Linked DNA regions of Homo sapiens: region 1 is linked to region 2. A link means that fine-mapping ties the variant in region 2 to the expression of a gene that starts in the linked region. Tissue or cell type: whole blood. Region 2 holds a variant in brackets; the other region holds the start of a gene. All regions are shown on one strand. Distances are between the middles of the regions.

Evidence for each region. PIP is the estimated chance that this variant, and not a neighbour inherited with it, causes the effect.
Region 1: LYPD8 starts here. The variant in region 2 is the best candidate, but not a certain one, in a credible set for the expression of LYPD8 in whole blood (TOPMed, PIP 0.52).

Annotation. Positions count from the first base shown.
Region 1 is chr1:248,754,743-248,757,502 of GRCh38, reverse strand. LYPD8 (LY6/PLAUR domain containing 8) reads left to right here and starts at 1,744. Exons shown (of 7, transcript NM_001085474.2): 1 at 1,744-1,798; 2 at 2,117-2,264.
Region 2 is chr1:248,813,766-248,816,525 of GRCh38, reverse strand. SH3BP5L (SH3 binding domain protein 5 like) reads left to right here. Exons shown (of 7, transcript NM_030645.3): 5 at 1,916-2,077. Among named protein-coding and RNA genes, the nearest start is that of SH3BP5L, 11 kb to the left of the region's middle. The variant A/G (reference allele first, on the strand shown) is at 1,492.

The DNA.
Region 1 (2,760 bases), 59 kb after region 2:
ACTCCAGGAGGGCAAAGGTCTTTGTCTTTTTGCTCACAAATACCTCCCGGTTTCCTACAGTAGGCCTAAGACAGGGAGGGTGCTCAAAAAATGTTTGTTGAATGAATGCATGAGTTTGGGGAAGGAAGAGAGAGCTGAGACACAGGTAGCGTAGCCATCCCCAAGGGGTATTTTCAAGAGCAGGGAACTGCAAGGTTTAAATGCAGGCTGGGGGATACTGGTATGATGTGTGCCCCTCAACCTCTGCATCCTCGGCTGAGTGGGCTCCTCCCACTCCCCACCGTGTGTGTATAAAGTGTCAGCACAGTGGAAAGATGAGGAGGGAAGATAACTCAAGTCCACACTCAAAACCAGGAGCACCCATGGCACAGTGTGAGGAGACTGGGAGAGTGTGAGGGTTAATATTGAGTGTCAACATGATTGGATTGAAAAGTATTGCAAAGTATTGTTCCTGGATGTGTCTGTGAGGGTGTTGCCAAAGGAGATTAACACTCGAGTCCGTGGACTGGCAGAGGCAGAGCCACCCTCAGTCTGGGTGGGCACCATCTGATCAGCTGCCAGCTCTGCTAGAATATAAAGCAGGCAGAAAAATGTCAAAAGGCTAGACTGGCCTAGCCTCCCAGCCTACATCTGGGTGGACATCATCTAATCAACTGCCAACACAGCTAGGATAAAAGCAGGCAGCAGAACGAGGAAGGACCAGACTGGCTGAGTCTCCCAGTCTCCATCTTTCTCCCATGCTGGATGCTTCCTTCCCTCAAACATCGGACTCCAAGTTCTTCGGCTTTGGGACTCTTGGGCCTACACCAGTGGTTTGCCAGGGGCTCTCAGGCCATCAGCCACAGACTGAAGGCTGCACTTTTGAGGTTTTGGGACTCAGACTGGCTTCCTTGGTCTTCAGGTCACAGACAGCCTATTGTGGGACTTCACCCTGTGATCATGTGAGTCAATACTCCTTAATGAACTCCCCTTCATACATATATAAACTCACCTTCTCTAGAGGACAGAGAACCTGACTAATACAGAGAGGCCTCAGTTGACCTGACCTGGGCTGTTACCAGTAGCTGCTCAGATCACTTGGCCAGAAAGACTCTCTCGATGGCTGCTGTGGGCTCTCACCCAGTGTGCAGAGCACACTGCAGGCAGGGGCTTCACGTCATGGTCCCTCTACCACACTATGAGGCTGCACAGTGAGTTTACACTCATCTTGGTTGGAGGACCCTCAAATCTAACAAGGTTAAGACACTTGCCTGTGGGAAACTGAGGCCCTTTCCTGAGTTGCACAGACCCCACATAGTCTGATTCGGAGCTCTGAGTTCTGACTGTGCCCCGGCTGTGTGCCCATGAGCATATCTCTTATGGCTCTCTTTCTGTGCTTTGGTTTTCTCATCTATAAATGGGCTAATCATGGTGACTGTTAGCAGGTTGTTAGGTGCTTGTCATTAGCAGGTCATGGAATTGACTTAGAAGGCCACAGACAATGCTGGAAGATACCTTACTCCTGTTTACATTTTGCCAAAGGCAGGCCTTGACCAAAGTTGTTCCCAATTCCTAGAGGTCTCAGAGAGGGCACGAGCTGCACAGATGCCAAAGGGTTGGGCAGCCTGTAGCTCTATTGGGCAGGGCACAGTCTGAGAGCCAGAAGCCTTAGCCTGTCTGACCCAGAGGTCCCACCCCAGAAGACAGCTGTGCTTTTTGATTTTACAGCCACCTGCTATATAAGGCCTCTCCCATACCAGCCCTAAGCCTCTACTGGGAACCACCTTCTGTAGGACAGTCACCAGGCCAGATCCAGAAGGTGAGAGGACTGCGAGGCCGGGGCCTGAGCCCTGGGAGAAGCTGAAACCGCAGGAAGGGCATTCAGGACCAGCTCAGGTCCTTCCCCGGCCAAGTCCAGGACATTCTTGCGGCTCTTGCTCCTTTGGCATTGCCCTAGGCAGTCGTATGCTCAGGAGAGGGAAGTCTGGAGTTCAGGGAGGATGTGGGCTGGGGATGTAGTTTTCTTGTTGTTTTGCCATCTGCTACTGTGTGTGTGGTTTGTGTGTAGTGTGTGCGTGTTCTGTGCATCATTCTGTGTGTGACATTCTTCATTCTGTGTGGTTTTGTGTCCTCACAGCCTCTCTAGGCTCCAGCTTTCTCTGTGGAAGATGACAGCAATTATAGCAGGACCCTGCCAGGCTGTCGAAAAGATTCCGCAATAAAACTTTGCCAGTGGGAAGTACCTAGTGAAACGGCCTAAGATGCCACTTCTTCTCATGTCCCAGGTGGGGGCCCTGCCTTGAGCCCCAGCTTCACTGGTCCCTCTTACCCACAGAGGTGTTGAGCACGGCCCTGGGTCCTGCTATGGGGTCACTCCCAGGCTCTGTTTCTCTGCTAGGTGNCCCTGGGTCAAGTCCTGACCTCTCTGGGCCTCCATCAATTCTCCCTGAAAATGAGGCTAGTTTCAGGTCTTCACCATAGGCTGAGGTGATCTGTGCACTTGATGGGCTGCTGGGGTCTCCTTCTCATCTCATCTCATCCTCTCCTTTCCCCTCCTCCATCACACTGTAAGACCTGAGAGGCCCTTTCCCAGAAGGCCATGGCCCTGAAACTCTTTTCCCACTGAGGAGAAAAGCAAGCAGCTGGGGTTCCAGGCCTGGAGGGGTGCACCCGGGCATGTAGGGGTGCACCGGGCCTGGAGGGGTGAGGGGCTGGCGCACGTCTGCTACAAGCTCCAGACCAGATGTGCTTTATTTTCCTCCTTGGATCTCTAAATGGTGG
Region 2 (2,760 bases):
GGCTGACCACGTTTGAGGAAGGCTACGTGCTGAGCCTGGCCCTGGATTCTTCTGTCTCTATATGGAGTGAGAGACAAAACACCAGACCCTGAGGGCAGAGCCCTGGGCTAGACCTGGCTGGTCGGAACCAGCTCTGTGGGCTCAGGAGGTTCCTTTACCACGTGGGCTCTGGGCTTATGGTCTATAAAATGGTGAGGGTGGCTGTGGGAGAATATTTAGTTCAGCCCTGCTAATGTTTAAGTGCCTTCTGTGTATCAGGAATCAGGCTTTAGGGTATATCAGATATGTCAGTTCTAACATCCTGTTGTTTTCATCTGCGCCCATTTCCTCTTCCCTTTGGTTCATGTCTCTCTTCTGAATCTTTTCTTTGCTTACTCCTCACTCTTTTCCCCATCCCACACCCCTTTTTTCTGTAACAAATTACTTTTAACAAATAATATGTGTTCACCATTGGAAAAACATAATAAAACAAGAAGGAAACAAAAATCACCCAAAATCCTACCATGCACGTTTCATGCATTTTGTTTCCTGGGATTTGTTGTCATCCTGTATGGTGAGGTGACAGATACAGACAACTGCCTTGGAAGAAGAGTTTGTTCCCGAGAGGAGGGGACATCCATGCCATGCAGGGCCACACGGGGAAGCAGCCAGGGTCCTTCAGGAGGCAGAAGTGAAGGAGAAAGCAAAGCGCAGCGCCTTAGTGTGGTTTTCGTGGAAAGGAGTAGGTGAGGCAGGGTAGGCAAGTTTGGATAAGTTTAGGAGTGGATAGTTGGAATAACTTTGCTAGGCCCTGGGCTATAGGGGCGGCCTCTAATTGTCTAGTACCTGGCCCTGGGATGACTTAGGGCAGAGGAAATATCGGCTTGGTCGGGGAGAAGTAGGTAAAGGAGTTAGCTGGGGATCCAGGCTTTGGATTAGGTGGTTGGTTTGCATATGAAAGGCACACTTACAGGGGAGTTTACTGTTTCTAGGAATTAGCCCTGGAAGGGGCAGTTTGTCCTTGGCCAGCAAGGTCCCCCAAGACATGAAAGCATCATAAAGTATAGAAAATAAAAATATGATTAATACAGCACAGATAACCATGTGTGCTGTATTAATCATATTTCGTGTCCTTGTATATCCAGCCAAAATGGGATTACACAGTATGTGCTATTTTGTTCTTTTATTAGCATTATGACATGGTTCCATGTCAATAACTATACATCCAAGCCGTCATTTTAAAGGACTGATTAATATTTTATTTTTTTAAGAAATGGGGTCTTGCTCTGTTGCCCAGACTGGAGTGCAATGGTGTGATCATAGCTCACTGTAACCTCAAACTCCTAGGCTCAAGTAATCCTCCTCCCTCAGCCTCACAAGTAGATGGGCTCACAGGCAGAAGCCACTGCGCCCAGCTTATTTTCTTATATTAGATGTACTATTATTTATTTAACCGATGTCCTATAACTGAAAAGTTAGGTTTGTTTTGTTTTTTGCTTGGTTGGTATGGCT[A/G]TGATGACTGTCCCTGAGCACTTGTCTGATTACTTCCTTCAGCTTGCCTGCTGAACATGGAATTGATGGTCTCAAGGTCATCTTTTCTGTAAGACTCTGTCTATGTTGCTAACCACCTTACACTAAAATGGTTTGTGTTTTCCTTTGTTTTCCCTAGGGGAAAAGGCTAGCAGCCTTTGGGAGTGCTGGATTTCACACATCTACCCTCCACTGGCAAAATTTTTATTTCTTCTAGTCCATATCCTTATGAAATATTCTTTATAGAATGTTGCTTCCTTGGCATTTATCCTCAGCACAGTTTGGGAAATGAAGCCGACATTGCTAGTAGGCCTTCCTCCTTCTCTTATCCTCACGTCTATTATGGGTCTCCATGGGCAGCTGGGGTCCCTCAGGGTTCCCCATCCTGATATCCCTCTCCCCCCAGGCTCAGCAGGAGACACAGAAGGCAGCGCTGCGGTACGAGCGGGCCGTAAGCATGCACAACGCTGCTCGAGAAATGGTGTTTGTGGCTGAGCAGGGCGTCATGGCTGACAAGAACCGACTGGACCCCACGTGGCAGGAGATGCTGAACCATGCTACCTGCAAGGTGAGCCGGGCGGTGCCAGCAGGTCCCCTTCGCTGGTTCTCGTCCATCCTTTGCTATGTCTTTATCACCTCACCTCCTCATTCTTCCCTCTATTCTAGCCTTCTTTCAACTTTGATTCTGTTTCAGGCAAAACCTGTTCCTAGTTTTCTGTTCTGTTTGGCCTCCATTGCTTCCCATATTCCATTTCCCTCTGACTTAGAATGTCATCCCGGGCTCTTCTTGAACGTTTGCCTCCAGGTGTGGGACTAACCCAAACAATTCATCCCTGGTGGATACTGAGGATTCAACATTCACATTTTATTATGTTTAGCTGTGTGACTCCTCGCTTCTGTTTTCAGAGTCTGCTCCCTTTCCTGCTTTTGAGCTCTGACAGTACACCTCGAGTTTTGAAGTATAATTTATGTATCATTTCCAAGCTCCTGAAAGGGGACTGGGGAGCGGAAGGATCTCTGCCGTTGGCCCTGTCTGCCACCTTCAGCTTGCACAGGGCAGGTGTCAGCAACTCGAGGGGGTGTTTGTGGCTTGTGATTCTTCATCTGCCCCTCACACAGAACAGGCACCTCACTTCTACTCTAGAGCTCATGCAAATGAGAGCACACAGCACGGGGGGAGGGGTTAGGGGATGGTGTATAGTGTAGAGCTACACCTGAACAGGGAGCAGGTGAGGGCTCCAGCCGCTTTGT